Homo sapiens: one gene and its partner. Changing the gene in region 2 together with the main gene of any one other region gives a genetic interaction. Each region holds a gene or a part of one and is shown on either strand. Other genes may lie near its edges.

Region 1 (3,500 bases), on a different chromosome or scaffold from region 2:
CTGAACTCTCCAGTTGCAGTCCGGGAAATACTTTTTTCTAGGCAAGAAAGCAATAGCAATATGGTGGTATAAAACAGCAGCTTATTTTTCCCACTTGTTTTCCTGTTACTCTGTATTAAAGCCCTAAAGTTAAAAAAAAAAAATCTTAAAGTCCTACATTTAAAACCTGGCAGCATTTGGTGTTCTGTAGCTCATTAACTCTTCTCTGATTCTGTATTTCATAGACCATTGGTATTGCATAGTCACAGGGACCCAGAATTTCAGATGCCAGGTAAAGTGTGTTCTTTGTGAAGAAATCCATTTCTCTGTCCCCTGTTGAAGGCGTGATGAGAGGCTGGACCTACAGTGGAGTCTGGAGGGACATCAGCTGGGAGTGGTGTCTGTGGACATCAGCCACACCCTGCCCATTGCTGCATCCAGCTCTCTTGATGCTCATATTCGTCTTTGGGACTTGGAAAATGGCAAACAGATAAAGTCCATAGATGCAGGACCTGGTAAGAGTTTTACTTGTAGGGGAGATAATAGAGGTTCATGATTTCTTTTCCAAAATCTTTAGGGATAGAATGTGTTTTACAGCTCAGAATTTTTTGGATTTGAGAGGGGTGATAATGTGTGCATGAACTGTATTTCACATAATACCCTCAGTGGGGCTGGAAACAGCACTGTAATGAAAGACTAATACCTCTGCAAGTAAACATGAATGTTTACACTAAGGGAGATAAATAAAGGCTATAAATAGCCTTATGTCAATTCAGGTTAGATTTTGCTGCCAAATGAATTTTGGTAGTAAACCTGTAGAAAAAGCTTGTAGTTTCCAGAGCTTTTTGGATTTCAAAACTGCTGGTTTGGCGTTGACCTGTATTTTGCATTTTCCAGAGGTTCTTTATTTGCCATATTCTGAACTGATTCATTCACTGCCTTACGGAAACCTAGAATGTAAAGCATGGGGTCCTTATAGATCTGTATCATGGTCATCTCTACTAATTTTGATTAAAGGGTGTGATTCTTGGTATGTGATACATATGAAACTTTTAAGAAACATCAATTTTTTTTGTTTTAAGTACTGTAGAACAGCATAATCTTGTCCATCAGCCTCAGTAAACATCATCTGAGATGACAGAAATTAATGATGTCATAGGCTGACTAATGTGGAGCAGCAGAGGACATTTCAGGATTCTTTTGAACTTCACATTTACTTATAAATGGCTGCACAACATTCCCCAGCAGAACCTGCTCTGCCAGAATGGGTGGTAACTGCTAGAGGGTGCAGATAGCCTGGCATTTCTCTGGCACACCCCTTTTTGGGTTGATGATAGAAGAGCTGCTTAGGTGTTCCATGAACACAGTTCCCTTGATTGGTGCCCTGGATGGATTCGCCTCCCGCCAGTTATGCTCAGTAGCCACTCTAGGCTGTTCCTGTATTGGAAAGAATGATGGTCCCAGAGTTTTTAAAGAGGCTGGGTTGTCTGGAAACTGAGTGCATTTTCCCTCAGAAGCAATATTTCTTGTCTGTAATTCTTACCACTGGAGCTCTTTTAAGAATATGCCTGCCCAGTCCATATTTTGGATCCACTGAATCATAGTGTTCAGAGTACGTGGGGTGGGATATGTATTTGGAAAAAGCTACCCAGACGCACCCTGACTCCCCTGATGGTTGTCTTTACATGTACCCTTACCCTGCTTACATTACTTACAGAGGACTTGGGTCCCCAAACTATCCTGCAAAGTCTATTAAGACTCCAATATATAAGCATGGTCTTAAGAAAAGAGGAAGAGACAGAACTGTTTCTACCTTTTCATCTTGGGCGCCTAAGCTTTCCCTGGGCTCATAATGCTGGTGTTATTCCATGCTGGTTGTAGCCCTGGGCACAAGGCAGCTGAAGAAATCAGTGCTGGATTGGTTCCAAGTAAAAGGATGGCGTATGTATCTAGCTCACTTTCTCTGATAAACAGTACCTTTTACTGGATATTCTCCAAGTGTGGCAAAGTTTTAAAGGTTACTGTTATGAAAGAAAAAGAAGAGGCCAGGTGTGGTGGCTCACACCTGTAATCCCAACACTTTGTGGGGCTGAGGCGGGTGGATTACTTGAGGTCAGGAATTCAAGATCAGCCTGACCAATATGGTGAAACCCTGTCTCTACTAAAAAATACAAAAAATTAGCTGGACATGGTTGTGTGCACCTGTAGTCCCAGCTACTCAGGAAGCTGAGGCAAGAGAATAGCTTGAACTCGAGATTATGCCACCGTACTCCAGCCTAGGTGACAGAGCAAGACTCAATCTCAAAAAAAAAAAGGAAGAATGGGGTCTGAGAGTTGGATTTATTTTCTTTTTGGATAGGACTCTGCATAAAACTAGACCAGGCCATTAAACAGCCAACAGTTATTTGGTCCAGTAACAAAAGCAAGCATTGCTATTGACAGCTAAAGAGCAGCTAAATTCATCTGAAGGTAAAACTCCTTGGATGAATTTGGGTCTAATGAATGTAGGGAAAATAGACACTTAGTTTCTACCTATCTTGAAAATATGCATGGAGAATCTGAACCACCACACAGGAAGAGAAAAAGAGAAGAGAGACAATCCCCAGTCGTGGAGAAGTAAGGAAGTAGGAGGAAGCGAAGACCATGAGTGTACCAGTCTTTGTGTGGACATATGTTTTCATTAGGAGTAGAATTGCTGAGTATCATGGTAAGTGTTTGTTTTCACTTAAGAAACTGTCAAACTGGTTTTCAAAGTGGCTGTGCCGTTTTACATTCCCACCAGTGTATGAAGGCTCTGGTTTCTCCACATCCTTGCTAACACTTGATATTGTCCTATTTTAATTAAAAATTTAAGAAACCCTTAAACTAAATTTAAACTTGATAAAGAATTAGCATCTTTACAACATAATTTTCTGAATCAGGACACTGCTACTCCGATTTAAAAAGATGTATCCTTTGGTAAAACTTTAGTTTTTAAAATTAAGGCCAAGTCTTTTCACACTGTATTTTTGTCCTTCTTTTTTCTGTTCAGTGGATGCCTGGACTTTGGCCTTTTCTCCTGATTCCCAGTATCTGGCCACAGGAACTCATGTCGGGAAAGTGAACATTTTTGGTGTGGAAAGTGGGAAAAAGGAATATTCTTTGGACACGAGAGGAAAATTCATTCTTAGTATTGCATATGTAAGGAAACATTGCTCTCTGTTCTCCTTCTGATTCTTTCAGTTTACCCTTCCAGCCTGTTGCAGTCCTTGCCACAGATTCTGTCTTGGTCTGGTCAGGCAGCTGCTGTCTCACTGGTGTGGTTTGCCAAGTAGCCAGTTAGACCTGTAGATAGCAGGAGGTTTGCTTGTGTTTGGTAGGGACAGCTTAACAACACGGAGTCTGAAAGTGCTAATTTCTCCATATGTTCTCTGAACAGAGTCCTGATGGGAAATACCTAGCCAGTGGAGCCATAGATGGAATCATCAATATTTTTGATATTGCAACTGGAAAACTTCTGCATACCCTGGAAGGTATATATC
Region 2 (3,500 bases):
GCAGGAGAATCACTGAAACCTGGGAGGCAGAGGTTGCAGTGAGCTGAGATCACACCACTGCACTCCAGCCTGGGAGACAGAGGGAGACTCTGTCTAAAATAAATAATAATAATAATAATAATAAAGGTACATGATGGAAGCATATATGGGAATATATGCAAAGATCTCTGAGAAGATAAAGAAAGGTCTCTGGAAGGATTAGCAAAAACTCCATAGAAAACGGATTTTTAAAGCTGCATCTTGATGTTAACCTGCTGAAATGTGTGTGTTGGACCGGGGTGAGGAGGAAGCAGTCATTCATGCTGTGGAAGAGAACAGCATGAGCAATTGCAGTGGGGCATGAATGAGTGGGTGGTTATGAGTGGGAGGCAGAGTCCGTGAGTTGGGAGGGGCACAAGCGAGTTTAACCTTTACCTTGGAGGTGATGCAGAGCAGTTGAGTTCCATACAGATTTGGCTTCGAATATGAGTTCCACTACTTCTTAGTTGTGAGATTGGACAAGTCACTTGACCTCTCTTTGTCAGCCTCAGTTTTCTTGTTTATAAAATGGGGGTGATAGTAATAACTACATGATGGGATAGTGATGAGGAATTAAATGAGATCATGCATGTAAAATGCTGAGCCCTGCACATAATAAGAACTAAGTAAATGTGAGCCATTATCATTTAAGTAGGGAATATCATGCCCATCTGAGTCCATACATTTGTTTCCTGACTTAATAAAATAGCTGCCGTTCCTGAGAAGGAGGGATTCCTATTTCCCAAATGCTGGAAACAGGGACTTATAGAAGGTAAATTGCCCCATTAGTAAGTAGCTGAATTGGTTTTCCAACCTGGATCTTTCTGGCTACAAAACTGATGCCTTGTTCCAGAAAGGATTTAAGGATGCTCAGGAGGAAGACATTCCCAGAGTTACACTCTAGAAGGTCTTGGAGTGAATGGGAGGTATAGTGGAATGGAGGGCGTATTTGAAGAAACCCTTCCTGTGAAGGAAAATCCAAGAGAATGAAGTAAGGAGAGACTTAAACTTGAAAAGATTCTTGTGAGAGAAGGAAAGGGGCTATTTACAATAGAGAAGAGACTAGAAGAAAGTCTGAACTCACCTCCCTGGAAGCAGAGGGTGGTGGGGTTTTTGAGGGCTGTGTGAGAGTGTAGAAGTACTGAGAACAAGAAGCCATGTGGATCCTGTGAGGGCCAGGATGGGGGGGGGGGTCATGGGTCATCTGTGTTTGCTGATTGGCTTTATCCAAAGGAAGAGTAAACATCTCATCCTTATGACAGGAAGTAGTCCTGCAGCTTGGAGCAAGGTGCCCACCAAAGTTAGGCACATCCCACAGCAAGTGGGAGAAAGGAGTGCTATCTCCTTTTGAGGTTACATTTCAGAGAATGGTTCCCCTGGGTCCTTGAGAAAGACAGTCCTGGGTTGTAAAACTGGCAAGAGGCTGAGGGAAGATGTATGTCTCAAAGGGGAACTCAAATAATTTATAATTTTAAGTTTTCTGATGCTCTAAGGGAAGTCAGGTGCCTAATATTGGTGATGTGGTTTGGATGTCCCCACCCAAATCTCATGTTGCAATGTAATCTCCAGTGTTGGAGTTGGGGCCTAGTGGGAGGCGATTAGATCATGGAGTAGATTTATCATGAATGATTTAGTACCATTCTCTTGGTACAATCCTCAAGATAGTGAGTTCTTACAAGATCTGGTCATTTAAAAGTGTGAGGCAACTCTCCTCACCCCTTGTTCCTACTCCTACCATGTGAGGTGCTTGCTCCCTTTTCACCTACTGCCATGACTGGAAGCTTCCTGAAGCCTCCCCAGAAGCAGATGCCTATGTGACGCTTCCTGTACAGCCTGCAGAACCATGAGCCAATTAAACCTCTTTTCTTTATACATTACCTAGACTCAGATATTTCTTTATAGCAATACAAGAATGGCCTAATCGTGTTAGGAAGAAGCCTGTCTGAAGTGCAGTCAGGCTGAGGGGAGCATGAAGGCCATCTTGATGGGGGAAATCTTTTAGTACCCTAATGCGAGCAGATGATGATGTTGTTGGCAGAGAGGGAGGGTATAACTTGTGGTGCCTAGCCCTAGAGGGAATGGAAGGGCCAGAATCCAGAGCATAGGTGGGATTGTGTGGGCTGACAAGTAATAGTATATGATAGCATAGTATATGATAGCAGTAGTATACGATAGCATGTGTGTGAGTCCATTTTGTATTGCCATAAAGGAGTACCTGAAGCTGGGTAATTAATAAAGAAAAGGGGTTTATTTGGCTCACTGTTCTGTAGGCTGTACAAGCATGGCACTAACATCTGCTTGGCATGAGCCACCACACCCGGCCAGAATTTTATTTTTAGTGACTAGGCTTTCCTTTAAAACCTCTGTACTAGGCCGGGTGCAGTGGCTCGCGCCTGTAATCCCAGCACTTTGGGAGGCTGAGGTGGGAGGATCACTTGAGCCCAGGAGTTTGAGACCAGCCTGGGCAACAGAGTGAAACCCCATCTCTTTAAAAAAATAAAGCACTTGAAGCAGAACTTTTTATCTGTCATAATCACTGCTATGTCCACAGCACCTAAAACAGTCCCAGACATCTGTTGAATAAATGAATGAATGAGGTGGGAAGTCTTTCTTTACACTTAGATGAAAACTCCATCGGACCCCAAATTGTTCTGGTCTTGTTCAGGTAATAATTTTAATTCTATAATAAAATCTCAAGTTATAATAGGCTCAATTTGATAATTAGGATGCCCAGTGTTGTGTAATAATTAAAGCGTTAAATTTCCTCTCTGCCCCACAGCTGGGATCCAAGAAGACCCTGTGGCTGGCTACTCTTCTGTATTTTCATTTATCTCCACCCCCAGTTTACCAGCAGTGGTTATCCTCTCTCCAAGACTGGGCCAGGGGTGAGAAGGGCAGTCTTACCAGGCAAGGGTCTTTGCTGACAGATGTCTGGGCCTTCTTGACAGCAGGTGTTTAAAGCTGAATCTGGTTCTACTTTCAGGAGAGTGATGGTTTGAGATGGTAACTGAAGTTGTAGAAGTAGATGTTGAGGATGAAGTATCATATTAATAAAACATTGCCCATTAACACCTTAGCACAAATTAAAACTAGCTATACCTCACTGATAAGGACCTGAATGGCTAAATAATGATGAATGATTTATGGATGTAGCGGGGAACTGGGTGGAAGCAGTAGTAAGAAATTTGAATTAAGGAATCGTAAGGGAATCGAGATTATCTAGTTTCCCCTCGACATTTTATAACTGAATAAACAATAAAAAACAAGAGAAGTGACAGCTTTATAGCATCTGATTGGGGAAAAACACATCTTTTCTGGGGCTAGACAGTCCATAAATAGGACTTGGAAATGGAAGTGTAGGGGGAGATCCCATTGTACTTCAGTGGAAAACTATGCATTGTCTGGAATCTAGACTCTGGACAAAGACCCTTCCTTCCTGGCTGTTTGATTTTGATTCTATGGGAGCTATCTTGCAACTCTGT

The links. Genes that interact genetically often act in the same process or in processes that back each other up.
Region 1: changes in NDUFA9 (region 2) and SKIC8 together harm fitness more than expected from each alone (negative genetic interaction), as found in Homo sapiens cells (one large-scale study listed by BioGRID).

The regions. Positions count from the first base shown.
Region 1 is NC_000015.10:78,289,610-78,293,109, reverse strand, and holds part of SKIC8 (superkiller complex protein 8), read left to right. Parts: intron 1-321; coding exon 322-494; intron 495-3,010; coding exon 3,011-3,159; intron 3,160-3,397; coding exon 3,398-3,491; intron 3,492-3,500. UniProt on the Homo sapiens protein: Component of the PAF1 complex (PAF1C) which has multiple functions during transcription by RNA polymerase II and is implicated in regulation of development and maintenance of embryonic stem cell pluripotency.
Region 2 is NC_000012.12:4,690,614-4,694,113, forward strand, and holds part of NDUFA9 (NADH dehydrogenase [ubiquinone] 1 alpha subcomplex subunit 9, mitochondrial precursor), read left to right. Parts: 3' UTR 1-3,500. UniProt on the Homo sapiens protein: Accessory subunit of the mitochondrial membrane respiratory chain NADH dehydrogenase (Complex I), that is believed not to be involved in catalysis. Required for proper complex I assembly.